Linked DNA regions of Homo sapiens. The protein of the gene in region 1 purifies or fractionates together with the protein of each later gene. This does not show direct contact. Each region holds a gene or a part of one and is shown on either strand. Other genes may lie near its edges.

Region 1 (16,563 bases):
GATGAATATCTCATCTTCCATACATGATACACAACCCTCTGACATACAGACCCAGTGAGGGTGCCACTGTCATTTCATGATATAAAATATTAGTAAATTTTAGTAAAAGCTTATTTTCATATATTTCAAGACAAAAATACAAGCAAATATTTATTTTTTCCTCTGGTTTACATATTACCCACGAAAGTAACCACAATATCAAGCATTGTAAATATACTATCTTTTACCTTTACTGAAAGACATACTATTTCCCTTTTACTGATGTGGAAAACAGTGGCTCTTGCATCCTAATACGTTTGCATTCCTCAAGATAATTAATGCTAGCTGCTGTAATCAACAATCTTCAATTCCAGGGGCTTAATATATTTTTTTCTTGTTTGTTTGGTTTGGTGGCTCTCTCCGGGCATTTCTCCTTCCAGTAGCTACTTAAGAATAAAGTCTCCTTTACACTGTGGCTCTATCACCTTTAACATGTGGTTTCAGCCTGTTCTGCGGTCATCCAGCCAGTAGGTAGGGAAATGAGGGAGTCCCTGGGCTTCAGACTGGAAGTGACACATCACTAATGCTTATGGTCTTTGGACAAGAGCTAGTTACATGGTCCTATCCAGATGAAAGGGTGCTGGGAAGGTGCACCTAGAGGGAAGAAATAGGTGAGGTGGGCAGAACCTACCACAGTCTCTGCCACAGTTCCAAAGCATGAACTGTTTGGAGGTGGATTTAGGTTTCAACCATGGTCTTTCTGATTACAATATCCATGCTTTTCTCTTCATGCTACATTGTCAGTGCAAGGCAAAAGGAAGAACCCACGAAAAGACTAACTGCCTCTTCATGCTGCACTTCGTAGGGGCACAGCTTGATGAAAATGAGATCTGTCTTTAGCTTTGCCCGTTCATAAACTTTACTAATTTTTAGTTCCCCAAGGATTGTTTAATACTATGTTTGCAAAAATCATTTATAAGAAATGACATTTTAATAACTTTAAAAAACTTCTTGGGTTTATTGAATTTTTCTCCTTCCTATTCTAGAACAACTTAAGATGCTTTACTCTATATAGTATACGATATACTATATATACTTTATACATAGTATACTGAAATTTATTACAGTATATATGGTAAATATATTTACTGTATTTACATAGTATATATAATTAAATTTACTATAGCATTTATAATATAGTATACTATATATAGTATATACTATAGACTATATTTACTATACTATATACTATATATTTACTGTATGCTATATTTATATTTAATATATACAATATTTACTATATACTACATATAGTAAAGCATCTGAAGTTTTTATTATATATATAATATATATACATATATATGACACCAAAAGATAAAATAAGTAAATTGGTAAGATAATGAAGTAAAGCGCAAATAGGTTGAAGTTAAAACTGAGGTAGAGCACAATATGTTAGCCATGAATCCTATACATAATAGAGTGGGTCATAAATTTGGTTCTGATATTTTGTAACAAATTTACTTCTAAGAAATACAAGTAGCTATAAGGTGAAATGCATCTACAAAAAGAGTCAAATAATTTGCTTCCAAAACGTGCAACTACACCTCTTACTTAACCCAAAAGGAAATATATCCCATGGATCATTGACTCATTCACTCATCCATTTAATAAACATTTATTAAGGGGCTATCATGTACCAGATACTGTTTTAGGTTTTGGAGATACTTCTGTGGACCAAACAAGACCCTGTCTTTACAAAGTTAAGGAAGAAAGACGATAAATAAAGAAGTAATTGTATAGTATGTTTGGCGATGGTAAGCACTGAAGGGAAAATAATGGCAAGGATGACTATATGTGCCAAGATGGAGTGGGGTTGGGTGGTCAGGAAAGGCCTTACTGATAAGATTACATTTGATCAGATACCTGAAGGAAGTGATGGTGGTGGGTAGCTGAGGAGAAATCCAGAGTGTTCTAGGAACAATAAATCACAAGTGCATTGCTCCGGGAATATGTTTAGAGTTTTTGAAAGATATTGGGAAGCCAAGGAGACACAGTGTCCTTGGGGAGACCTAGGGAAGGAAATACTGGGGATCTTGCCTTATGTAGTAATAGCAACCTTATGCTACACAAAGTGTTCACATCATGTGATAAAAGCATATTTCTGCTTGGTAATGTTGAATATGTAACAAATTTCGCTCTGGGTTTTTTTTTTTTTTTTCTGGACTCTATTCAGACCACGGCATTATTATGAAGAAAACGAATCCTTGATGAGATTTGGGCTTCCTGATCTCAATACATTTCTTAATTACCTCTTAGAGGCTTTAGCATATGGTTATATTTTTTAAGTTGATTTTACTAGCAATTTTTATGTATTTGGGTACAAATATGTATTTAATAAAGCATTTAATTTGGCAAATATTGACTTTGCAGCTGACTTTCTGTGTGACTACAGATGAGACACAATCACTGAATCTCAATAAAAATTACATGTTTTTTTACAATAGCTGTCCTCTCTGCCTCACTAAGGTTTTATAGAGCTCTAACAAAATGATAAATCTGAAAGTAGTTTGAGACTTCATTGTAAGACCATCACTTTTTCTGATCTTCCCATGTTTGACAAACACGCCCTGGCACTTTGCAAGGGTCTATAAATACTGACAAATTGGGGTCTCTGTCCTTAGGGAGAATATAGCCTATTAGAAGAAACAGACAAGGAAACTACAAATGAGAAACGCTCTGGTACCGAGAAGAAAGAAGGATAGTCTGCATAGGAGAGGATTCAGAGTAAAGTTGAGGGACCATTTACTTCTCAGAGGTGAGCTGCATCCTAAAGAACTAGGAGGAATTATTAGGTAAGTTAGGAGGGGAAGGGCATTACAAGCATAGGGAACAGACTGTGCAAATGCTTGTCAGTTGAGAGGATTTAGTACTTGTTTCTTTGGTTTTTGTGGGAAAAATGAATATGTAGTATGATTGGTGGATATTAGGAAGTATAGATAAGGTGAGGGTTAAGGGAGATTCACCATCAAGAAATTTTATTTTGTAGTGGTGTAAGAAATCTTCATTAAGAAATTTTATTTTGTAAAGATTTTAAATGGGGATAGGTATTGCATGGTAAGACATACTCATTGGAAAAAATATGCTGGCAATAAAACGAAAAATTAGAAGGTGATACTGAGGAGTGAAGGCCAGTTGGAAGAATCTTACAGAAATTCAGGCAGGAAAAGAAGAGGGGTGAATTCAGATAACAGAAGAGAGAAAAGAGACAAGATAAAGAGAGATTTAGAAGGTATGACTGTTATTGATATTTGATTATGTGAAATGGAGGCAAAAAGATTGAAGAGCATCCATGTGGCATTTCCCAGCTTCCTGATTTGAGCAGCCCAGTGGATACAGTATTCTTAACTTGAAGCTTATAGTCCATTAGGGAGGGCAGTAGCTATTTGGAAAATCATATTTAAAGACTGCTTATTGAATAATTAGTACCAACCTTTAGATAATTATTTAGTGGTATTGTAAAAACTCTGTTCTTTTTACCTTTATCAATGAAGTAGGTAGAAATAATATAAAAAGGGTGCTTTTTTAAAAAAATCAAGTATATAGTTGAAGATATCTCAGTAATATAGCTAGAAAGGGATAATGTCAGAATTTTGATTCAGAATTATTTTTAATGTTTTACCTGAAGGGGACTGAGATGAACAAGATAAAGTGTTTAAAAGATAGATGTACAATCCACTATAGGTTGCATAAGTATAGATTAATAGAAACCTAATTTATTATTAGCAATATTAGGTAATAATATGGCAATTAACACTTATGTACTGCTTTTGATTTTCAAGAAATATTTTTCAAGTATTTTTTTTTATTTGAACTTTCAACAACTCTCTGAGTTGGGCCTTTTTTGTTTCATTTTACACGTAAACAAATTGAGGGTTAGAGAGGTTAAGTGTGAGAACAAACTTTCTGATAACCAGGCGTTATGAATGGAATAAGCTGCTTGTTGGCCGGTCCTCAGCACTGAAGAACTGTAGACAAAGCTGGATGTCTACCTGCTAGAGATGTTCCACAGTGTGCAATAGCTCTAGCAGGAGGGAGTTAGGGGGAGATGAGATTTTGCATTCAATGATGAGAGGATCATAGAGTATGAACCCTGACAAGAACCTGAGGCTAATGTAGTCTAACCTTTTCATTTTACAAGCGAGAAAACTGAGGCCCAGAAAGGTCAACTTGCTCAAGCTGATGCAAGCTCTGGAATCTAGCTGTAGGTCAGTGATCGCTAACAGTCATGCTAAACTGAATGATTCTTTGAGAATCCTGAGGAAAGAAGGAAAACGAGAAGAAAAAAATGAGTGGCCCCAAATGGTTGACATAATATCCTTAATTATCACATTTTTTTAATCCATAGGGAGAACGAATGTTCTTGAGGAGAATAAAAGTAGTTGGCAAGTGGTATATGTTTTTATGGTCAACAACATTTTTTAAAATTTATTTTTTATTTTATTTTATTTTATTTTATTTTATTTATTTATTGATCTTTTAGTATTTACAGGAAACAGAGACTACAAAGAGGTGTAAGACATGGACCTTACACCGCAAGCTCTTCCAAGCAATATGTGGTAGGCAGAATAATGGCCCCCAAATATGTCCACACCCTAATCCTCAGAACCTGTGATTATGAGGCAGGAGAACAGGGTCTGAAGGCAGGAAACCTAAGACCGATTGGCTCTGACTTCCTAGAACTGAATCAAAAGGAAAACCCCACCTCTCCACATCCAAGTAACAAAACGATCAGAGGCTACTTCCTTTGCAACTCCCCCCTCCACCCTTTTCTGCCGTTGCAGATGAAAAATGAAAGGACCTCCAATTGGTCTCCTCCTGCAACCAATCAGACTGGTTGCAGGCCAAGTCTTCATGTGTAAATTTGTAACTTCACTTCAGCCTCCAATTGGTCATTTTGCACCACCAGTCAGACTGGTTGCTGGCCACTACTTTATTTACATAGGGTTTAAACCAAGTAACAAACAGGAAACCTCTAGAGAGTATTTGAACCCCAGAAAATTCTGTAACCAGGCTCTTGAGCCACTTGCTCGAACCTGCTCAGTCTGTGGAGTGTACTTTTATTTTAATAAATCTGTGATTTTCTTTCATTGCTTGTTTGTGCCTTTTGTCCATCCAATTCTTGGTTCAAAACGCCAAGAACCTGGACACCCTCCACCGGTAACAATTATGCTACCTTTAATGGCGACAGTGACATTGTAGACGTGAATGGAGCTTCACAGAAGAAGATTATCCTGTGGGCCCAATCTACTCATCATGTGAGTCCTTAAAGGTGGAGAAACTTTCCGATCTGTGGTCAGAGAGAGCAGGACACACAGCAATGACAGAAGGGTCACAGAAACACACACCTGATGTGAGAGGACTCAACCAGCCACTGTTGGCTCTGAAGACGGGGGGATCAAAAAGGCTATCAACCAAAGAATATGGGAGACCTTTATAAGCTGGGAAAGGCAAGAAAACAAATTCTTCCCAGGAACCTCTAGAAAAGAATACAGGCCTGCTAATACCTTGATTTTAATCCACATAGAATTTTGTTGACTTCTGACTTACAGAACTGTAAAATAAAACATTTATGTTGTTTAGACCACTAAGTGTGTGGTAATGTGTTATGTTAGCAATGGAAAACTAATATATAAGGTAAAAAGAAACAACATATACATGGAAGCTTACCAATGATCAATATTCTCTAGGGTATACCAACCAGGGTTAAACATGAGGTCATATGAATAGTAATTTCCCATACTCTGTCGCCGCCTTTAGTTGGTTGCAGAACCTCTGTTGTTTCTTAAAAGATCTTTTCCCCAACTGTCCCTGAAGATCCTCAAGATAGTAGAGGACCTCATAAATTTTCACAATCCCAAACCCTAGCGGCTACATAGAATCCACTCTTTTCCTTGTCTTAGATTTCTTCTGGTGATGTCTATTGTTCTCTAAATGCCTGGGAACTCCATTTACATGCCAGGCATTGCTGCAGCAGTGACTCTACTGCTGACTTTGTTTATAATTTTCATCAGAGTGACTCTGATCCTCTGTGCCAGTGCAAGCCTTTCAGGTAAGCCTCAGGCCCATGTGGAGCTATCTCCTACTGGTAGCCACTGCTTGCCCTTTTGTGAAAGTTGAACTGCATTTCCAGATAAAGTTGGAAGAATTCACCTGCCCCGCTTTTGTGTTATATTCCCTTGAAAACAGTTCCAAAGCAAAGCTACCTTGTGTACACAAGGTCTCATACGGTTTTGTTGTTGCTGTTGTATTTTTCTGTGAAATAACTCTACCAGTTGTACTTGAGAGTCCCCTCTCACTAGGACTCTGTTATTGCATACGGGCTTGGCCAAAGGACATTGAGATGCAGACCCAGCGCTGAACCCCAAGCTATTCTTGTTAGTGGAAAATACCTTTGTGCTTTGATTTTCTTTTTTCTTATAATGAGTGACTTTCCAGGAATTCCTCCATGCCTTCCGTAAATAGATTCCACCCCACTAAACCAGTAGATTCCTTCCTCACAACTGCAGAATCATACAAGAGGGAATATACTAAGTAACACATGGATGGATGGCTTTAACAGTTTAGAGGAGCGCAGGATCTGGCAGTTAGGATTCATGTAGGCTAAACTGGAGAAGGAAGAGATCTCCAGTGTATATTTCAGTGTGACTTCCCACTACCGTTCAGTACTTAATCTGGACAGAGAGATAATGGGCATTCAACAAATTCCTATGGAATTAATAATGAGGCAGAAATAACGATCTGGTAGAAACACTGGGGCCAAAGCATTGTTGACAATGAGTTGGAGGCTTATAAATTTGAGATGGAGGTAATAATTGAAATTACAAGGGAATGAAAACTTGAAGAAAAAAGAGAAATAATGGATATTCTAACCATCTTATTAATGAGTATAATGTGTGGGACTAGCTATACATATATAACTCCTGGTGAATGTCTGCTGTGTAACTCAGACTATTTGGTACTTAGTTGTTTCTGTGTGTGGGCATTATCATTTCCAGTGTTTTCTCTAACTCAAAATGTTTTTAATGTATAATTTATGTGATTTGCTCAAAAAAATTGGAGAGAAAAATTTTGCCTCCCCTTTCTGGATTGTATTTTGGTTTCTTTTTTAACTTCTATTTCTATAATAGTAACTAGATTTTAGACAAAATTCTGTGCATCAGAATGAGTATCTAGCAATACATTGCAGAAATTTTAAAAATGAGTAAACCACTTTATCTGTCATGGAGGAGCATGCTTGGGGAGGTAGAGTAGAAAATTACATAATATGAAGTTCCAATCAGTTCATTTGGATTTGATGTATCACTTATGACATAAAGAATCTAAAGAACAACTAACTGATGAGATGTCTTCCTTTCCCCTTTTGAGGTAAAATTCACATAACATAAAATCAACCATTAGCCATTTAAAAATGAACAGTTCAGTGGCATTAAGTACAATTCATCCTGTTTTTAAAAAGCCCTGAAGGAAGTGAAAATGCCAATAGAGAAAGCTCTAGAGAACTGACATACCTCAATCTCTAAATATGCCACATTACATTGACTCAAGTTCTTTTTGCTCTAATGACTGTCAGTTTGTGTTTGGTATGCGTTCAATGCTGAATAAATTGGTCACATATTCAAGTTACCTATGACTCTTATTTCTTTAATTGAATTTGTATTAGGTGTTAATATCTAACAGAATTCCTTCAGCTATCTATTGTCTTAAGTATTTTCTATTATTTTAGTTTCCATGTGGACGGGTAACATAACTACCTTGTTCACTGTTTCCCCAGAGGAGAACCCAGGACATAATGGGATATATGTGTGTGTGTGTGTGTGTGTGTGTGTGTGCGCGCGCGCGCGCGCGCGGGCTCTAAATGAATGATCTATTACGTAATCTTGGGGTTTTAATTCTCATTAATTCCTTATAGGTTCCCCCACGTCTCCGCAGTGGTCAGTACTTTTTTTTTTCTTTTTTTTTTTTTTTTTTCTGAGACGGAGTCTTGCTCTGTCGCCCAAGCTGCAATGCAGTGGCACAATCTCGGCTCTATGCGATCTCTGCCTCCTGGGTTCAAGAGATTCTCCTGCTTCAGCCTCCTGAGTAGCTGGGATTATAGGCGCCCGCCATCACGCCTAATTTTTGTATTTTTAGTAGAGACGGGGTTTCGCCACGTTGGCCAGGCTGGTCTCGAACTGCTGACCTCAGGTGATCCACCCGCCTTGGCCTCTCAAAGTTCTGGGATTACAGGCGTAAGCCACCACTCCCGTCCCTTCAGTATTATCTTGTAACACCCCGGCAAAGCCTTCAGGTGGAGAATGTTCCTGGCGCGGAATAATCCACCTGAATGTGAATCCTGACCATTTTTAGGCGCCAATGGAGGCCGCTGCTACGGGGCCGGCCGTGAGGTGGCGCTGTTGCCCTGTATCGTGACTCCGTTTTCACCTGGACTGGAGTCACCGTGATACCTGACATCTAGCAATCACTAGAGTAGGAAATGAGTATAGATCAGCAACAAGTCCAGCCTTTACAGTTGCAGCAGAGGTTTCCTGTGGCTCGAGTGTGGCGAGTCCCGGAAACCTCGGAGCCCGCAGACTTCCCTTCGCGGGAGCCCGCCCGAACTCCATCCTTTGCCGGCAGCCACGCCCCGCAGTGGGAAGGAGGGACTGAAAAGCATTTCCTTGAGGCTGGCACACCTTGCCCTACCCAACCCTGTCATTATTTCCCCTCCGACTGGGCCGGTGCCATCGGAAACCGGAGTGACCAGAGGAGGGACACGGTAGTGAACGGGGTATGGGGGGCGGGCGCGGCGGGGAGGGTAAAGAAGGTGGGAAGGGAATGGCAGCGAGGCAGCTGGGGGAGGACTTTGCAGTTGGGGAGGGAGAAAAAGGGAAGAGGCTGGGAGCGGAACGGGTGTTTATGTGAACAAACAGAAATCACCAAGTGAATTAACCTGTGTTTCTTCGGAACCAGCATCTTGTGGGGTTTGGCTTCTGTGTTTCTATATGATAAGGGAGTAAACCTGACTCAGCAGATTTGGTGCAGAGAGAAACATGAGAAAACCCAGGAATGGGGGACCTCTGTTTATTCCTGGAGAGGGGGCCATCAGGAGAGGGGGAAGGGAAAGAATGAGGTTACAGGAATTACTTGTCAGAGGACTGCATAGCCTTTCAGACCATGGAATCGTTGCTTTCAGCTTCGGCTTCCTCATCTGCAAAGCATAAATACGGTAATTACTTTCCAGGGTTGTTGCGATATTTAAATGAGATATCAATAACCATGCTTTAAAAGTGTACAGCCTGATGTGCTATCCCTTGTTGACTGAATCTCTGTTTTCTTTCCTTCTTTTTATTTGGGGTGGGGAGTGGGGGAGGGAGTCTTGCTCTGTCACTCAGGCTGGAGTGCAATGGCGCGATCTCGGTTCACTGCAACCTCCGCCTCCCAGGTTCAAGCGATTCTCCTGCCTCAGCCTCCCAAGTAGCTGGGATTACAGGCTCCCACCACCACGGCCGGCTATTTATTTTTTTGTATTTTTAGTAGAGACGGGGTTTCACCATTTTAGCCTCTGTTTTCTTTTCAATGTCTTTTTTCCTCTTTCATTTTTCTCTATCAACCCTTCATCCCCCCTTTCTTTCTTTCATTTATGCGATTGTTGCTTCCTTCTGTAATGGGTCCTCTCCACATTGGAGTTTCTTATACCTATGAGACCACACTTCCTTCCCACTCGGTGGGAAGTAGTGGCAATAAAGGAGTCGAGTTACTGTAATGTGCAGCACAGCTCAACTGAAATACACCTGGAAACAGAACTCTGTGCTGTCTACCTGGTTTTTCCCCCTCAATGCACCGGAATCTCCACTGACAGCTAGCTAGGGGGCAGCTAGGTCTTTCAATGAGACATCATGAAGTATTTGCTTCAATGAAAATCATATACTTTTTCGTTCAGTGCCTCCATTACTGTGTGAGTTTGCTAGGGCTGCTGTAACAAGGTACCACAAACTGCATGGCTTTTGGCACCAGGCACCAGGGACTGATTTTGTGGAAGACAATTTTTTTCACAGATGCCGATGAGGTTGGCGGGAGATGGTTTCAGAATGAAACTGTTCCACCTTACGTCATCAGGCATTAGAGTCTCATAAGGAGTTCGCAACCTATATCCCTCACATGAGCAGTTCACAATAGGGTTCACGCTCCTATGACAATCTAATGCTAGTGGGCACGGTGGCTCACACCTGTAATCACACCACTTTAGGAGGAGTTGGTGGGTGGATCGCCCTGAGTTCAGGAGTTTGAGACCAGCCTGGGCAACTTGGCGAAACCCATCTCTACCAAAAATACAAGAGGAAGAAAAAGAAAGAAAATCTAATGTCGTGGCTTATCTGACAGGAGGAGGAGCTCAGGAGGCAATGACAGCGATGGGGAGTGGCTGTAAATGCAGATGAAGCTTTGCTGGCTCACCTGCCTCTGATTTCCTGCTGTGCACCCCGTACCTGTCGGCGCCCCGGGTGTTGGTGACCTCTGGCTTAAACAACGAAATGATTTTCTCACAGTTCAGTAGGCTGGCTATCCAAAACTAACATGTTATGAAGCCTGCATCTATTCCAGGCCTCTTTCTTTGGCTTGTAGATGGCTGTCTTGATGTTTATATGGTGTTCTCCCTGTATATATGTCTCTGAATTTCCCCTTTTTATAAGGACACTAGTCTTATTGGATTAGGGTCCATCCTAATTACCTCATTTTAATTGATTATCTCTGCACTATCATCTCCCAATAAAGTTACATTATGAGTTACTGGGGGTTAGAATGTCAGCATATTAATTTTGAGAGGGTGTACAGTTCAACCCTTTAACAACTAATGTCTTTAATTATGCACAAGTTAGTTGAGCATTGCATGTATTTCAGTTTTCTCTGGCAGAAACTATTTCCCACCTGTCCCAAACCCTCACAACCAGTCCCAACCAACATGTGCTCCGAAGATCTGCCAGGAGTTATGTGATTCTGCAGCTCTGTTTTCTTTTAACCTGAGTGTGTACATTTCCTGTTGCCACTGTAACAAATTACCACAATGGTGGTGGCTTTAAACAACATAAAGTTTTATCTTACAGTTCTGGGGGTCAGAAGTAAAAATGGATGGGCAGGTTTCCAAATGGATGGTTCTTTTTGGAGGCTCTAAGGGAGAATCAATTTCCTTGCCTCCTTCAGTCTCTAGAGGCTGCTACAGTCCTTGGCTCATGGACCCTTCCTCCATCTTCAAAGCCAGGAATGGCCGGTAAAGTGTTTCTCATGTCTTATGCTGACGCTCACTTTTGCCTTTCTCACACTTAAGGATTCTTGTAATTGCACTGGACTCACTGAGTATTCCAGGGTAATCTTTCTATTTTAAGGTCAGTTGATTCATTCCATCTGTAACCTTAATTCCCCTTCGCTATTTCAACGCTATTAAAAATCAACATGGCCAGGCGTGGTGGCTCACGCCTGTTAATCCCAGCACTTTGGGAGGCTGAGGTGGGCGGATCACGAGGTCAGGAGATCGAGACCATCCTGGCTAACAAAGTGAAACCCCATCTCTACTAAAAATACAAAAAATTAGCTGGGCGTGGTGGCGGGCGCCTGTAGTCCCAGCTAATCAGAGGCTGAGGCAGGAGAATGGCGTGAATCCAGGAGGCGGAGCTTGCAGTGAGCTGAGGTCGCGCCACTGCACTCCAGCCTGGGCGACAGAGCCAGACTGTCAAAAAAAAAAAAAAAAAAAAAATCAATATATTCATAGGTTCTGGAGATTAGGACATGGACATCTTTGGGAAGCCATTATTCTGCCTACTGTACCTGAGCTTTCCCAACTGGGTATTCTTTATTTTTATTATATGTATATTTAAAATTTATGTTTAATTAAAAAAATTAAAAATTATATATATATTTATCATATACATGTTGTTTTGAAATATGTATATATTGTGGAATAGTTAAATTAAGCTAATTAACATAGTATTATTTCACATATTTTTGTGATGAGAACACTTAACATCTACTGTCTTAGCAATTTTCAAGAATACAATACATAGTTATTAACTGTAGCCACCATGTTGTACAATAGATCTCTTGACCTTATTCCTCCTAACAAGGAGGAATAAGGTCATACCCTTTCATATCCTTTGACGTCTTTCTAACCCCTCGAATTCCCCCAACCTCTGGTAACCATCTTTCTATTCTCTACTTTTATGAGTTCAACTTTTTCAGATTCTACATATAAGTGAGTTCCTATGATATTTTTCTTTTCGTGCCTAGCTTATTTCACTTAACATAATATCTCCTGGGTTCATCCATGTTGTCAATTTCCATTTTTCAAAAGGCTGAATAATAGTTCATTGTGTTTATACTGTATGTATTTATACTTTATTCATTTATCCATTGATGGACATTTACATTGATTCCATCTCTTGGATATTGTGAACAATGCTGCAATAAACATGGCGTGCAGACAGCAGTATGTGAAATCAGACACACTGATTTCATTTTCTTGCTATCTATACACAGAAGGCAAAACATTGAGCCTTCAGAATAAAAGTAAGATAATATACTGAATAAAGAACATTATATACAAAAGTCAGATCACTATTGGATGTATACCGAATAGTGGGATTGCTGGATCATATAGTAGTTTACTTTTAATTTTTTGAGGAACTTTCATACTGTTTCCCTAACGGTTGTACTAATTTACATTCCCACCAACAGTGTGCAAGCATTCCCCTTTCTCTATATCCTCTCCAACACTTATTTTTCATCTTTTCGATAATAGCTATTCTAACAGGTATGAGGTAATAGCTCATTTTGGTTTTAACTTGCATTTTCCCTGATGATCAGTGATGTTGAATATTTTTTCACATATGTGTTGGTCATTTGTGTGTCTTCTTTTGAGAAATGTCTATTCAGGTCCTTTGTTCATTTTTAGTACAGTTATTTGTTTTCCCCCTATTGTTTTAGTTCCCTATGTATTTTGGATATTAATCACTTACCGGATATTAATCACTTCTCAGATATTTCTACCATTCCATGGGTTATCTCTTCACTCTGTTGATTTTTTCCTTGGTTGTGCAGAAATTTTTTAGTTTGATGTAACCCCATTTGTCTATTTTTGCTTTTGTTGCCTGTGCTTTTGGGTTTATGTCCAAAAAAACATTGCCTAGCCTAATATGATGGACCTTTTCTCTGTGTTCTCTTCTAGTACTTTCACAGTGTCAGATCTTACATTTAAGTCTTTAATCCATTTTGAGTTGATTTTTGTACATGGTGTTCTTTATTGAGTATATTATCTATTTTTATTCTGAAGGCTCAATGTTTTGCCTGCTGTGTATAGAAAGCAAAGAACTTTAAATCTTTTTTCTGAAGAAAAACAACCTGCTTAATGATGGAACAAAAAATGTGTCCCTATCGAACAGAAACCTGGGTACCATGTACTTGCTATATATACTGTTAAAAACTACTCCCCATTCCCCCTTGTACTTTTAGTATTATAGCTTAATCCTTTATGCCCCATTAGTTTCTATAGGTTATTTTTCTATAAAAATTTCTTGCAGATCCAATGCTATTTTCATAGATGAATTAGCTACTTATTTATTCAACAATCATATGAATTCTGATATATGCCAGACACTGCTCTTGGTGCTAGGGATACAGCAATGAACAAAATAGCTGGTCCCTAAACTTTTATTCCCATGAAGGTTTCATGCTTTTTCTTCTTCCTTTGCCAGTTCATTTTTGTCCTCCCCACCAGCCCAGGCTCAGCCAGTCTCTAGTTCTCCAACATGCTTTCTGAATTTAGATGTGGCTACTGTTCTGTGCCTACTTCTGGGCTGGGCTAATGAGGGACCTAAAGAAGCTGACTGTGCTCTCCAGGAAATTAAAGTCTTGTTGGGAAGAAACAGATAATAATAGGCAAACTGGTTAAGTACTGAATAAGTAGGTTGGGTATTAGATATCATGTCTTGGCATAGTGTCTAACTGGAGAAAGTGAAAGTAGAAGGGAACGAATGTGCACAAAGGTAAAGAAGCTAATTACGGCTGGGTGCAGTGGCTCACACCTGTAATCCCAACACTTTGGGAGGCTGAGGCGGGCGGATCACCTGAGGTCAGGAGTTCGAGAGCAGCTTTGCCAACATGGTGAAACCCCATCTCTAGTAAATATACAAAAAAAAAAAAAAAAAAAAAAAAAAAGCCAGGTGTGGTGACAGGTGCCTATAATCCCAGCTACTCGGGAGGCTGAGGCAGGAGATTAGCTTGAACCTGGGAGGCGGAGGTTGCAGTGAGCCAAGATCGTACCACTGCACTCCAGCCTAGGCAACAAGAGTGAAACTCTGTCTAAAAAAAAAAAGAAGAAGAAGTAGAAGAAAAAACAGCAGCAGCAGCAGCAGCAAATTACACAGACAGACAGTGTAGAGTGGACAGAGTCCTCTCTCAGTCCGGGGGACCTGAAATCCGTTTTAAGCTCTGGTTCTCTCTTTGTGAGCAAACAGCAAGGCACCTACCTCAGGGGTCCTTAGTTGTTTTATTATTATTTTTATTCCTTTTGAAAAATGGAGGGTAGAGTTTGACTGGGAAATTGCTGGAGATTCTTCCAGGTTAAAAAAAAAAGTATTTTATTGTTGAACTTCTCAGAATTTCTTTGAGATTTCTAACCAGAATAATAATAAGATAGTTTAGAGTTTAGAAGAGACAGTCACCTCTGGATACAGAAAGGATAATGGGGATGGAGTAAGGGGTTTCTATCCATCCGTTGGCTTAAAGCCTCATTTCCTGCAGTTGTTCTCACCTCCTCAGCCCAGGTGTCCTTCTTCACTAGCTTTTCTTCCCTATACCTTCTGCTGAATTGGGCAGTTAGAGTTCAGCCCTATCATATTGTGAATACTACCTCCTAAGGGTGAGTCTTCAGGAAACATAAACATTTCCTGATGCTCACTCTTTCCTTAGCCCCCAGCAGTCTAAGTCGTATCCAAGCTTCTGAGCATTATGTGCTTCCCTGAAAGCCATCTCAATCAGTTTTCTCATATTTCTCATTCATAATAACCCTTCTTGGCATAGTGACAACAAGGAATATCAACAGTTAATTTGTTTTGTTTTGTTTTTTGAGATGGAGTCTTACTCTGTTGCTCAGGCTGGAGTACAGTGGGATGATCACAGCTTGCTGCAGCCTTGACCTCTCAGGCTCAAGTGATCCTCCCATCTCAACCTCCCCAGTAGCTGGGACTAGAGGCATGCACCACCACGTCCAGCTAATTTTTGTATTTTTTTTTTTTTTAAGAGACAGGGTCTTGCTGAAGACCCTGGCTAACCAGGCTGGCCTGGAACTCCTGGCCTCAAGTGATCCTCATGCCTTCATCTTCCAAAGTGCTGGGATTACAGAAGTCAGCCACGGAGGTCAGCTGACAGCTAATTCTTAACAATTGACATGGTCAGAGCAAATCGAAGGTAGTGTTTTAACTTTTATGACCCCAAATTTATATTTTTATGCTTTAAATTACTGGCTAAAATAAAAAATGAAAAGGAAACCTGTTTTAGTTTTTTCCTCTGTAGCTGTTAACCTTTATAACCTCAATAACTAGCTCCATCTTTATACATTTAAGGGTATTTTTAAAAATTGTTAGATAACAGTATATAGGAATATGGTATTTTTAGAATATTGATCTAAATTAAAATTATGTATATAATTCTAGGCTAAGTTAGAATTCTAGTAAGACACAGTAGTAAATGCCAAAGGTTTAAGGGAAAAAACATGTTTCAAACTATGCATTGTGGTTATAGAAAAATCTCAGTAATACACATGTGTACTAGTCCTTTCTCACACTGCTATAAAGAACTGCCCAAGACTGGGTAATTTATAAGGAAAAGAGGTTTAATTGACTTATAGTTCCTCTGCCTTATAAGTTTCCTCAAGAAACTTATAACCATGGCAGAAGAGGAAGCAGGCACGTCTTACATGGTGGAGGTGAGAGAAAGCATGTGAAGGAAGCAAAGGGGGAAGAGCCCCTTATAAAACCATCAGATCTCGTGAGAACTTATTCCTATCACGAGAACAGCATGGTGGAAACCGCCCCCATGATCCAATCACCTCCCACCCGGTCCCTCCCTCGACATGGGGGGATTACGGGGATTACAATTTGAGATGAGATCTGGGTGGGAACACAGAGCCAAATCATATCAACATGTAATATCCACATATGAAGTCAGGTGCCTTTCTGGAAAAAGCCTTGAAATGATTGGTTTTAGTTGTACACTCAGACATTGAATGATTTAACCAGATGTACTGTGTTGTGGGAGATGAATGCAGGGTTTGTGTTGGACAACTTTAGGAGACAGTATTATGTTATATTCATATTATGCTACCAAATAAGTGGTGAAAAATATTTGCCAAAGGTGCTAATTTGGTGTTTAGAGAAGTTGATCTCAAGTGCTTATTTTTTCTGACAATAGTCAGCTATCAGGACCAATTGTATGTCAAGTCACCCCTAGTTTGTGTCAGTGAAAAAAGGCTTAAAATCAACTTCTCCAAAGTCTCTGTTA
Region 2 (13,320 bases), on another chromosome or scaffold:
CAAGAAGCCCCTGTCTTGAGGACAGAGAGACTGCGGTCTGGCCTCCCCAGACCCAGGCAGCCTCTAACATCACAGCCACAGAGCAGAAACTGGCCTGGCTTCCTCCCAGGCCCAGAAGGCCCCAGCTGGCCACCTCCCTTTGTTTGTCTTGGGAGGGGCAACTGCTAAGCAAACAGGGAAGGGGAATCCCGATTCGGCCTCTCTGTCTGTCCGGCTAGCCGTTACCCAGGCCCGGGCTCTGGTGCCCACTGAGGCCTGGCTCCTTCCTGACCCTTTGTGTGGAAGGGACACAGGGCAGGAGTGGGTACAGAGAACACCCAGGGCTTTCCGAAAAAAATAGCCCAGGCCTCCCACAGATGAGAGAGGAGCTATGTGGTTCGGTAAACCTCAGTTCCAGCTACAGGCAAATGGGATTAACTGAGCACTTACTGTGTTGGGGCCCTGGCCTAGCCCCATGCATGCCAGAGCCCTCCAGATACTGCCTGGCCACCCTGCAGGGTCCTATCAGATCTCGAGTCTCCAAAAGAGGAAACAGGCTTGGGGTCATAAGGGAATGAGGTTAGCAGGGGTGGTAATCCCACCCAGATCTCTCTGACTCTCAGATCACGGGTTTTTTTTTTTTTTTTTTTTTTTTTTCTGAGACAGGGTCTCGCTCTGTTGCCCAGGCTGGAGTGCAATGGCACAATCATAGCTCACTGCAGCCTCAAATTCCGGGATTCTCATGTGATCCTACCGCCTCAGCCTCCCGAGTAGCCAGGGCTATAGGGACGTGCCACCATGCCTAGCTAATTTTTAACTTTTTGTAGAGATAAGGTCTTGCTATGCTGCCCAGACTGGTCTCAAACTCCTGGCTTCAAGTGATCCTTCTGCCTCAGCCTCCCAGAGAGCTGGGATTACAAGCATGAGCCACTGCGCCTGGTCCCCAACTGTGCTCTTAATCATAGCTCATTTCTCTTAGTGGAGCCACGGGGGAAGGTGGTAAGGGGGCTTAAGCGGGAGCTCTATCCCTCATCTCTTTTTTCTCTTTCCCAGAGACCACACCGCTGTTCCAGACCCTCTCCATGGATGATGTCCTGCCCCTGATGCCTTGGGAGACCCTGTTGGCACAGGGCAGTCCCCAGGGCTCGCCTGACCTCCCAGCAGGGCAGCGGAAGCAGCAGCCACAGGGTGACAGGGCCCAGGGCCTGGCCTCTGAGTCCTGGAAGCTCCTGGAGGTGCCCATCATTCACATAACGCCATCCAGTGATGGGGAGTCCCCCGCCTGCACCCCAACCCCCCGACGCCGGCAGCAGCAGAGGATGCCAGACCCGCAGAGTCTGTCCCAGGACAGGTCAGACCTGGGCAGTGGGACAGGAAAGAGGGTCTCTCTGTCTAGGGAGGGTTCTCTCTGTCAAGGGTGGGTTCCTTGTGGCTGCGGGTCAGAGCACAACCTTAGCCCCACAGAGGGCTGACTCAAAGCCACGAAACAGATGCACAAACAAAAGGTAAAAACTGAGGGTGTGCGTTGGGACAACCAGCTATGACTGAGCTCAGCTGAGTTCTGCCTAGTAAGAGTGGAGGGGAAGCCGGGCGTGGTGGCTCACGCCTGTAATCCCAGCACTTTGGGAGGCCGAAGCTGGTGGATCACCTGAGGTCGACAGTTCAAGACCAGCCTGGCCAACATGGTAAAACCCCATCTTGACTAAAAACACAAAATTAGCCAGCGATGGTGATGGATGCCTGTAATCCAAGCTATTCAGGAGGCTGGGGCAGGCGGTTTGCTTGAACCTGGTAGGCGGAGGTTGCAGTGAGCCGAGATTGCGCCACTGCTCCAGCCTGGGCGTCAGAGCAAGACTCTGTCTCAAAAAAAAAAAAAAAAAAGAGTGGATGGGTGGAGAGGGACCCCACCCAGTGTTTTTCAAACTGTAGGTCAAGACCCATTTAAGGGCCATAAAACTAATACAGTGAATTGCAATCAGCCCTTGTTTTTTGTTTTTTGTCTTTTTCTTTTTGAGACAGCATCTCTCTGTCACCCAGGCTGAAGTGCAGTGGCATGATCTTGGCTCACTGCAACTTCCATTGCTCCCCCCTCCACCCAGCAGCTGGGACCACAGATGTGCACCACCACACCTGTCTATTTTTTTTGTATTTTTAGTAGAGACGAGGTCTGACCATGTTGCCCAGGCTGGTCTTGAACTCCTGAGCTCAGGTGATGCACCCTCCTCGGCCTCCCAAAGTGCTGGGATTGTGAGATGAGGCACCCGGCCGCAATCAGCACTTCTTTATCCAAATCAAAATAAAATAGAATTGCAAATAACACCATGCGTGAGGCCTAATGAGGGTAAGTGTGGTTTCTTACAACTTCTGTGGCATTATGTGTATTTCTAAGTGCGTGCTGGAAGCCCATGTGAAAGGTATTTCCTGCTGTAGATCACAGGCCAAAAAAACAAAAAAAAAAAAAAAAGAAGAAGAAGAAAAACAAAGAAAAAAAGAAAGTTTAAACAAAACTTCTGAAAAGAAACACTATCTCTGGTACAAGGAGACAGGAAATGGGAGGTTCAGGGCCATAGGGGGAAGAGGAAAGAACTCTACCGACCCTGAATAGAACAAGCAGCCACTGTGGTTTCTTCCAACAAGGGACACTCCATAAGCGTTAAAGTTTAGGAAGCAGAGCTTTGTGCATGGATGTGGAGAAATCGCAGAAACAATGATAATGGGGGACAGCAAGTTGCAAATGAAACAGAGGGAGCCTAATCGTGTATCTTTTTAAAAAGATACTGGATAATAGGTGATAGTGTTGGTGGATGCCTCCTGATGTAGAAAAAGGACAGAAAAGTACACAGGGTCCAGGCGTGCTGGCTCATGCCTGTAATCCCAGCACTTTGGGAGGCCGAGGCGGGCAGATTAACCTGAGATCAGGAGTTCAAGACCATCCTGACCAACACAGTGAAACCCCATCTCTACTAAAAATACAAAAATTAGCCAGGCATGGTGGCGCATGCCTGTAATCCCAGCTATTCAGGAAGTTGGGGCAAGAGAATCGCTTGAACCGAGGAGGTGGAGGCTGCAGTGAGCCAAGATCGAGCCACTGCACCACTCCAGCCTGAGCGACAGAGCAAGACCTTGTCTCAAAAAAAAAAAAAAAAAAAAGCGCAGGAAGGAAACACACCAACTGCATGGCAGGCAGAAGGCTCCTTGGGGGGCACGGGAAGGGAAAGGAGGGATGGGGAGCCAGGCCTTTGGTTGTAAGTGTAATCATTTATTTCTTTTAAAAAAAGGACCTGAAGCAAAATGGCAAAATGTCCACATCTATTCTATATAGGTACAGGGGACATAGAGGACTGTTATATTTTCTTCCTTTTTTTTTTTTTTTTTTTTTTTGAGATGGAGTCTTGCTCTGTTGTCCAGGCTGGAGCGCAGTGGTGCGATCCTGGCTCACTGCAACTTCCACCTCCCGGGTTCAAGCAATTCTCCTGCCTCAGCTTCCTGGGTAGCTGGGATTACAGGTGCAAGCCACTACACCTGGCTAATTTTTTTGTATTTTTGATAGAGATGGGGTTTCACTCTGTTGGCCAGGCTGGTCTCGAACTCCTGATAGGTGATCCACCCTCCTTGGCCTCCCAAAGTGCTGGGATTACAGGCGTGACCCAACGCGCCTGACCTGAAATAAATATTATTTAATTAAAAAACTAAAAGCATTACACTAGAAGAAACAGACCAAAGAGAAATCTAAAGAGATCAGTTGGACAGAGGAAGGTGGTGGGAGGAGGGCCTCTCTTCCATTGGCCGGTGGGAGGCAGCAAATGTCAGATGGTGGATGGGGGTTTTAGAGGTGGGGGTTAGCATGAGAGGTAGGGCACGGCGATAGGGGGGGTGCTGTCCATGCAGAGGGAATAACCAGTGCAAAGGTCTTGGGGTAGGAGGCAGGAAGGTGCCTGGTGAGTTAGAAGAACAGCGGGTAGGCTGGATGGGGGGTGTGAGCCAGGGGGAGATGAGGAGCTGAAGTCAGAGAGCTGACAGGGGCCTTGGGTGCCAAGGTGAGGACTTTGCTTTTACCTGGAGTGAGGTACAGCTGGGGCAGGGCTCTGAGCCAGGAGGGTAGTTAACTGACTCAGGTGGTCCCAGGCTCTCTCTGGCTGCAGGTGAGAACAGACAGTAGGGGCAGGGATGGGAGCAGGGAGATCAGGCAGGAGAGGATGGAGGCTGGGCCAGGGCGTGGGCAGCGGAGGAAGAAGAGTTTAGAATGGAGCGATTGATTTTATACGTGGAGCCCACAGTTTGTGACGGATTGGATGTGGTGTGAAGGAAAAGAGAGGGTCAGAAAAGACTCTGAAGTTCTGGGCCTGCCATTCATCAAAATGGAGAAGTCAGGTGGGCTTCTTTTGCAGGAGGAGGGGAAGGGTTGATGGAGAGGGTTGGGAAGGGAGTTTTTTCAAAAGAGGCGGGGACAGCGTACCCTGGAGAGCGCTGGGGAGCCACAGCCCCGGAGCTGTGAGGTGGGACTCGCATTTCTGTGTGGTTGGGCCAGGAGTCCAGGACACCACCTGACTCTGACCTCTTGCAGACGGGGCGGGGGAGGGGGGACGCAGGTTATGGCGTCAGAGCAGGATCGAATCCAACTCTGCCGCCTACCTACCAGGTGACCCCAACAAGTCACTTCCCATCTTAGAGGCCGGGCTTCTCCTTCCGTAAAAGGACTGATTTTGCCCGTTCCTGCGCTGTCCCCGGGAAAAGCCCTTACCACCGAGTTAGTGGGACTCCCAGCACTGGGGTGATGAGCGCAAGGTCTCAGCACAGATAAGAGCCAGGGAGGCTGGATTCTGACTTGGTACTTGGCCTGGCTGACCAAAACTGGGAAGTCCCTAGAAACGGAGGCACCGGACCTCCTGGGACCAGGAACCCGGGCTCAGAGACTGGGAGAGGGAAGGAGGAGGCGGCCAACCGGCCCCACCCCTTCCCGCCAGCTTCAGGCCCCCTCCCCCATACATACACCTCGGTTTCCCAGCATCTCCAGTCCTCCCCCACCTTCGCCCCGGCTCTCAGGTTCCTCCCTGGGAGGTCCAGGAGCTTCTGGCCAGGGGCATAGTAGTTGCTAGGGACCCTTTTCTAGGTACTAGGGGAGGGGGCTCCCCAACCTGCGGGCAGGCAGCTGCCTCCACGATGTTTGGTTTTAATAAAGTCTCTTTGTTTCCTTCTCTGTCTCTCTGCCCCTCTGCTTTCCCTTCTCTGTCCAGTCCCTCTCTCCCCGGCTTCTCCCTCCTTCTAGGCCTCTGCGGCCCCTCCCCGCCTTCCCTCCCGGGCTGGGGGCGGCGCCGTGACGCGGCGGGGCGGGGGAAGGAAGGGGGTGTCGCTGACGCCGCGGCGGCCTCCGGCGGCTCCGGCCTTTTGTGCGGGCGGTTGGGTCGGGTGGGGGCGGCGGCCGCGGAAGGCCAGGCCGGTGCCCTGCGGGGACGCCCAGCGCAGCCCAGCCCCGCGCAGCCCAGCCCTGCCCTGCCCTGCCCTGCCCTGCGCCCGGGGCGCGCCCACCGCGCCGCATCCATGTTCGAGTAAGGACCGGGCGACTAGAGCTCAGGGACCGGGCGCGCGGGGGAGGCCACCGGAGGGAGGGGGCGCCGCGGGCTTGGGGAGGGGGCGGAGCGGCCGCTGCAGAGGTCGGGGGCCTCTGCACATGGCTCTGGCCGGGGCGATCGGGGTGGGGGCGGGGCAGGGGGCCCCCGGGCGAGGGGTGCAGCTGGGGAGTGGGGCGCGGACGCAGGGCAGGGCCCGGGGTCTGGGTCGCCACTGCCGGCCCGCGACGCACTGGGTTGCGGGGTTTGGCTGGGGGCCCGCGGGTTCATCTGGCGGGGAGGGCCCTCAGGCCTGGCAACCCCCTGCCTGGTAAGCCAGGGGTGAGCGCGAGGCCGAACTGGGGCTCCGGCCTGGGATGGAGACAGGATCGGGACCAGCCCAGGCCCACAGGCCGCGGAGCCCTGGGCGCGCCGGGAGTAGGCAGCCCCCTCCTGCCTGGGCCCCCTCCCACCGTCCTTGGCTGTTGCGGGTCTCGGGGCTGCCGGGGGTGGGGGCTTCCTGCGTCTCTCCAGGACCGCGTGCTTGAGGTCATGGAGGGCGGGGGGTCCTGTGTGCTCGGAATTGACTTCTTACTCCCCTTCCGGTCCAGGTGGGCGCATGTGCTTCCGACTGTGAATTGTCTTGCAAGTGTGTGTACGTGTGTCTGGGGCTGCTAGCCTGCAGCAGCTTTGGGCCTCTGATAGAGTTCCTGCGTGTAACTTAACCACTAATTCTGACCGCGGCTCTGTGTGTCACTGTAAGTTACCTGTGTGTGTCTGGGGCTCCAAATCTGTGGCTGTGAGCAGCTGGTTGTGTGCGTGTTGTGTCTCATTCCATCTGTAGCTCCCTGTGCAAATATAAATTACCCCTGTGTGTCTGAGTGTGACGTTGGAGTGTTTGTACATGTGTCTGGAGTTACCGTGTGTAGCAGCTCTGATCCTTCTTGGGCTGTGTGTGTTTTACCATTAATTCTATCTGTAGCTCCAAGCGTTGCTGTAAGTTACCAGTGTGCGTCCCATTGTGACTTAGTGGTGTGTGTACAAGTGTGCCTGGGGCTCTGGGTTCTACCATGACCCTCTGTGCCTGCATATGCCTGTAATTTAGCTCTGAAACGCTCTTCTTTTTTTTTTTTTCTTTTGAAATAGAGTCTGGCTCTGTCGCCCAGGCTAGAGTGCAGTGGCACGATCTCGGCCCACTGCAACCTCCTCCTGCTGGGTTCAAGCAATTCTCCTGCCTCAGCCTCCTGAGTAGCTGGGATTACAGGCGTGTGCCACCACGCCTGGCTAAGTTTTGTATTTTTAGTAGAGATGGGGTTTCACCATGTTGGCCAGGCTGATCTCGAACTCCTGACCTCAGGTGATCCACCCACCTCGGCCTCCCAAAGTGCTGGGATTACAGGCTTAAGCCATCGCGCCTGGCTTGAAACTCTCATTTAGCTCTGTGTGCCAATGTAAGTTACATTTGTGACATTGTTGTGTGTCTGGGGCTCTGTGAGTGTGGCTGTAACTTAATTTGATTCCATCTTTGTGTGAACATTCCCTTGTGTATTCCTTTGTGACAGTATTGAGTGGTGCCTAGGCCTCTCTGTGTACAGCTGAGACCCTCTGTGGTTTTGTGTGTGTGTGAACAGTGTGAGACCCCTTGTGGCTCTCTGTAGGCTTGGAACCCTCCCTTCTAAGACCCTGGGAGTACCCAGGGCACTTTGGAGGCAATAATGATAACTGACGTTGTCCACCTGTTACAGTTAGTATAGCATGTGCCACGCATTATTCCACTACCTGGCCACTGTGTCCTCGAGATCCACGCCCTGCTCGGCTGCATTATTCCCAAGTCCTGCTTGACTGTGAGCATCAGGGCTCTCCACCAGCTACAGCCACTGACACCTCCACCCCTTGCCACTTTACTTTTTCTTTTCCTTTTTCTCTTTCTTTTAGACGCAGTCTCGCTCTGTCGCCCAGGCTGGACTGCAGTGGCACGATCTCGGCTCACTGCAACCTCTGCCTCCTGGGTTCAAGCGATTCTTCTGCCTCAGCCTCCCTAGTAGCTGGGATTACAGGTGCGTGCCACCACACCTGGCTAATTTTTGTATTTTTAGTAGAGATGGGGTTTCACCATGTTGGCCAGGCTGGTCTCAAACTCCTAACCTCAGGTGATCCACCCGCCTCGGCCTCCCAAAGTGCTGGGATTACAGGCATCAGCCACTGCGCCCAGCCCCTTGCCACTTTAGAAGTAGCCTTTTCTCTGTCTTCCCTGCCAGATGGTGAGCCCAGTGCGGGCACGGGAACAACTCAGTGGGGATGTGTTGGCTGACCGTGGGACCTGATTTACCTGGGACTATGTATGTGTCACCTGGGGTCTTTTGGGACTGGTCTTTCACTGTATGGCTGTCTTTGGCTCTTTGCTGAGACTTCCTCGTGGCTATGTGTGTGAATATAATTTATCCGGGACTTTCTGTGGGTTGCTGTATGTTTCTGTGACCCTCTGCAGCTCTGTGTCTGTGTGCACACATGCATGTGTCTGGATAACTTTTCTGGGAAATTGCCATGTGACTGTAGCAGACTAGCAATGCTGCAGGTGTGTGTGTGTGTGTGTGTGTGTGTGTGTGTAATTACTCTGTGGCTCTCTGTAGCATACCTATGATGCTGTTGCTCTGTGCGTGTGTGTGTGTGTGTGTGTGTGTGTGTGTGTGTGCATATGAGAGAGAGAGAGAGGAAAGAGACTCCTTGCAATTGTAGGGAAATGCAGTTTACCCCTGACACCTACTGTGTGACAATCATTGAGTTTCCCTTTTATGCACACCTGTGGATGCATCCGCCCTTTTCTGACCAGAGGCTGCTCTGGGTCCACTGGGGCCTAGGAAGTTGGAGGTCAGGTGTCTGCGGAAGCAAAACAACATCCCTTCCGAGTCTCCTCGCCCCTATAACAGTCCCCCAGGCTCCTCCCTTCACTCTGCCTTCAGCTATCCTGGTTGGGCAGCCGCAGGGTCCGCCCTTGAGTACTTCCTCTTTGCCCAGCCCTGGAGCAAAAACTGGGGGCGTGGTCCCTGCCCTGTCTGTGTGCCTTGAGCCTCTCTTCAGGATTCCGGCCCCCAGGCCCTGCCCCTAGATCTGTGGCTGCGGGAAAGTAGGGCAGGTCTGTGTTTCAGGCTAGAGGGCTGAGAAAAGCAGGCAGGGGAGGATGTGGTCCTGCTGCTTAGGAGTCTCTCCCTGCTCACCAGTGCTGTCTGGGTGAAGCCAAACTCCTGACTAGGGTCACCAGGCCTGTGCACCTCCGCTACTCCCTCAGCCCCACTGGCCACCTCACTCACACTCAGACCTGCCAGGCTCAGTCCTGTCCCTGAGCTTGATGTTCTCCACCTGGAGTCTTCTCCCAGCCTTTGCCACATGTGTTCTTTGTCCTCAGGTGAACAAGTGGGCTTTGTTCAGGAAGGCTTTTGCTGACTGTTACTAAAGAAATTGGTTGGGCACAGTGGCTCATGCCTGTAATCCCAGCACTTTGGGAGGCCAAGGTGGGAGGATCACTTGAGGTCAGGAGTTTGAGACCAGCCTGGGCAACATAGCAAGACCCCATCACTACAAAAAAACTTTAAAAATCAGCTAGGCATGGTGGTGTGAGACTGTAGTCCCAGCTATCAGGGAAGCTAAGGCTGGAGGATCGCTTGAGCCCAAGAGTTCGGGCCTGGAGTGACCTGGGAGGCTGAGGATTGAGAATTCCTTGAGCCCAGGAGTTCGGAGCTGCCGTTAACCATGATTTTGCCACTGTACTGCAGCCTGGGTGACAGAGTGTGACCGTGTCTCTAAAAAAAATTTAAAAAGCATCTCTGCCCCCCTAGTTGTCCCATCCCTTATCTCTGTGGTCCTCAAACTTGAATGTGCGTCGGAATCTCTGGCCCCACCCCAGTTCTGATTCAGAAGGTTGGGAGTGGGTCCTGGACTCTGCCTTTTGAACACTTTCCAAGTCCTGCCTGCTGCTCTCTGGGGCTCATACTGAGCAGCATTGCTTTATGGCGTTCACCAGTGTCTGAGGTCGCCATCCCTGCTCACTTGTTTTCTTACTGACGGTCTATGTTTCCCTGTTTCAGCGTCAGGTCCTTGCAGGCAGGGGCTTGTATGGGCTTTGCTCACTTCCTTGTGGCGGGTGCAGGGTATTTAGAGGTGAAAGGCTGGAGTTGAGGGTCAGTCATGGAGGCGCCTAACATCAGGCGTAGTGCTTGTGAGGTCCCTGTCAGGGTCAGCAGAGCGTCATGGGCAGTGGTGCACTGGGCTGGCAGCCGCGCTGTACACTCCATCTTAGTCCGCCAGTCCCTGTGGGAGGGAAAGCAGCGTAGTTAAACCAGGTGCCCTCCAGGTACTGGGCTTTGTGGATCTCACCTCACCTCCATCTCTGTGCAACCCTAGGAGGTGGGCACTAATTCCCATCATACCCAAGAGGAAACTGAGGCACAGGAGGGTTCAGACACTAGCTCAGGGTCACACAGAAAGGACGCGGTGGCACTTGACTGGAAGGTCCTTGGACTGTGGGGCCCACACTCCAGGCTGCTGCCCTGGAGACCTGCAGGGTCCAAGGAGTCGTGCACCTGCTGGAACCCAAGTTCTATGGGGGGCGGGGAAGGAGGGCCGATCACCCAGGCCATCCCCAACAGTATGTGCTCACGGAGCACCTCCTGTACGCCAGGCCCTGCTCTAGGTGATGGGGACACTCAACATCGTGGGTGGGGGTTGGGGGTGGGGAGAGAAGGATAAGAACTAGGGGGAAATACTGAAGGTCCCGGGAGGCAGCAGGGAGACTTGCTTTGCAGAAAGAGAGCAGGGAGGGGGATCGGGAGGCGGGGTAGGGGGTGTTAAATAGGGAGGTAGGGAAGGTGTCCACTGAGCAGAGACCTGAGGGAGGTGGGGGAGCCCTGTGGATGTGGATGTGGATGTCTGGGAGGAAGGGCATTTTGAGCAGAGGCACCGACCAAGGCGGGAGCTGGGAGAGGGAGTGCAGGGCTGATGAGGGCAGAGAGGGACCACCCAGGAGGACCCTGATGGACTCAGATGATCCCAGGCTCCCTCCCACTACAGGTATGGGCAGGGATGGGAACAGGGAGACCAGGGAGGAGGCTGCTGGGATGGCCCAGGGGAAAAGCAGTGGCCTGGGCCACTGGCTGTTTAATTATTTTATTCACGTATTTTATTCCACAAATTTATTTTACAAGTGTTACATGAGTGCCTACCCTGCATCCTGTCCCGCATTGTGCTGGGGACAGAGCAGTGACCCACAGACCCGTGAAGGACTTGGACCTGTCATCAGACAGTGACGGCCCAGAGTAGTCCAGGATGGGAGCTGCCCAGGGGACTGTGGGGTCACGCATGAGCCAAAGTCCTGAAGGACAAATAAGGATTTGCTAGGCAAAGAAGAACTACGATCTGGACAGACAGAATGGCATATGTTAAGGCTTGGAGGTAAGAGAGACAACTTTGAGTTGCCCCAGGTGGTGGAGGGAATCCCACCTGCACCCCAGAATACATCAAGGCCCCTAAATGGGAATCCTGCCTTGAAATAAACCAAGCCCATGGCCAGGTGCAGTGGCTCACAGCTGTAATCTCCTAGCACTTTGGGATGCTGAGGCAGGTGGATTGCCTGAGCTCAGGAGTTCGAGACCAGCAACGTGGTGGAACCCTGTCTCTACTAAAATACAAAAAATTAGCTGGGCATGGTGGTGGGTGCCTGTAATCCCAGCTACTGCGGAGGCTGAGGCAGGAGAATCACTTGAACCTGGGAGGCGCAGGTTGCACTGAGCTGAGATAGTGCCACTGCACTCCAGCCTGGGTGACAGCGCGACTCTTTGTCTCCAAAAAATAAAGAAAAAAGAAAGAAACCAGGCCCGTATCCTATGGCAAGTGGTTTGCCGCTTTGAGCTAGTTTCCTCCTCTGTAAAGCAGGGATGGTGAATCATATCAAAGGCACCGGCTTGAGAAATAATACGGTTAATCATACGGAGAGCTTGACATATTTCCTGATAAGGAGTCAACAAAGAATGTCCTTTTAAAGTTCCCAACGCCATCCCCACAGTCCTTATTACAGTTCGTGTTTGCACAGTGAAGTTGGGAGTGTCCTGTTTGTTCAGTGTCTGCCTCCCCACCAGAAGGCTCATTCCCCAAGGGCAGGGGCCATGTCCTGCGGGCTCTACTGATGCCAGCTCCAGCCAGCGTGCAGATTATTCATTTAGCCTCTGGTGGTTATTGAGCATTCACTATGTGCCTAGAGTTTTGGGCTCTAGGGACCCGGTGGTAACCAAGACCTGAAGGTCACAGTCTGGGTAGACAGTAAACAAACAGTAAACAAGCAGGACACTCCAGATAGCCTGGGGTGTGGCGACAGAGGTGCCTGCCTTAGGCTGGATGATGCGGAAGGAGAGCATTTGAGCTGAAGGGGACAGAGCTGGTGATGCCGGGGCCATGGAAGGACATTCAGGCGGAGGGACTACAAATGTGGAGGCCTTGGCGTGGGAATGAGATTGGAGAGCTTAGGGACAAAAGCAGGCTGGGATGGCCAGGGGAGAGGAAGGACAGGGAGAGGGAGGACATGAGGTCAGTGAGGTTCCAGGGCCAAATCACCACACCAAGGTGAGGTCTTTGCTTTTACCTGGAGTGAGGTGCACCCAGGGCAGGGCTCAGACCTGACTCAGATGGTCACAGGTCTCCTCTGGTTGTAGGACACCAGTGAAGAGGCTGCTGGGGTGTCCAGGCTGGAGGTGATGGAGGCTGGAGCAGGGAGAAATGGGTATAATAAAAATAACGGATGCTGGGTGCGGTGGCTCACGCCTGTAATCCCAGAATTTTGGGAGGCCGAGGTGGGCGGATAACCTGAGGTCAGGAAGGAGTTCAAGACCAGCCTGGCCAACATGGTGAAACCCTGTCTCTACAAAAAATGCAAAAATTAGCGGGGCATGATGGCGGGTGCCTATGATCCCAGCTACTGGGGAGGCTGGGGCGGAAGAATCGCTTGAACCTGGGAGGTGGAGGTTGCAGTGAGTCGAGATCATGCCATTGCACTGCAGCCTGGGCGACAGAGAGAGACCCCATCTCAAAAAAATAAAAATAATAGAAATAGAGCTGGGTGCAGTGGCTCACACCTGTAATACCAGCACTTTGGTAGTGCCCAAGGTGGGAGGATCACTTGAGGTCAGGAGTTTGAGAACAGCCTGGGCAACATAGCTAGACCCCATCTGTACAAAAATTTTTTAAAAATAAAAAAGCTGATAACAGTGGTGTGTACCTGCAGTCCCAGCTACCCGGGAGGCTGAGGCAGGAGGATCACTTAAGCCCGGGAGCTCGAGGCTGCAGTGAGCCGTGATTGTGCCACTGCACTCCAGCCTGAGTGACAGAGCGAGACCCTATCTCTAAAAAGAAAATAAAAATAAATAATGGAAATAGATTTTGAAATGAGAGATGAAGAAAATAAAGAAATTAAGAAAGATGCTTAGGGTTTTAGCTCCGACAACTGAGTGGAAAGTCGCTGTTCAATAAATATTTGTTGTATGAATCAGTAAGTTAATTTTAAAAATAGGAGGTATAGGCCAGGCGCGGTGGCTCACACCTGTAATCCCAGCATTTTGGGAGGCTGAGGTGGGCAGATCACTTGAGGTCAGGAGTTCAAGACCAGCCTGGCCAACATAGTGAACCCCCGTCTCTACTAAAAATACAAAAATTAGCCAGGCATGGTAGTGTGATCCTGTAATCCCAGCTACTCAGGAGGTTGAAGCAGGAGAATCTCTTGAACCCAGGAGGCGAAGGTTACAGTGAGCTGAGA

What was found.
Region 2: the proteins of STYK1 (region 1) and GRAMD1A purify together in Homo sapiens (affinity purification with mass spectrometry; 2 studies listed by BioGRID and IntAct, with this or other methods). This does not show direct contact.

What each region holds. Positions count from the first base shown.
Region 1 is NC_000012.12:10,666,197-10,682,759, reverse strand, and holds the start of STYK1 (tyrosine-protein kinase STYK1), read left to right. Parts: upstream 1-8,707; 5' UTR 8,708-8,794; exon of another isoform or gene 8,795-9,244; intron 9,245-15,304; exon of another isoform or gene 15,305-15,471; intron 15,472-16,563. UniProt on the Homo sapiens protein: Probable tyrosine protein-kinase, which has strong transforming capabilities on a variety of cell lines. When overexpressed, it can also induce tumor cell invasion as well as metastasis in distant organs.
Region 2 is NC_000019.10:34,994,962-35,008,281, forward strand, and holds the start of GRAMD1A (protein Aster-A), read left to right. Parts: upstream 1-5,361; 5' UTR 5,362-5,517; coding exon 5,518-5,525; intron 5,526-6,172; exon of another isoform or gene 6,173-6,283; intron 6,284-10,370; exon of another isoform or gene 10,371-10,589; intron 10,590-10,723; exon of another isoform or gene 10,724-10,947; coding exon of another isoform or gene 10,948-10,970; intron 10,971-13,320. UniProt on the Homo sapiens protein: Cholesterol transporter that mediates non-vesicular transport of cholesterol from the plasma membrane (PM) to the endoplasmic reticulum (ER).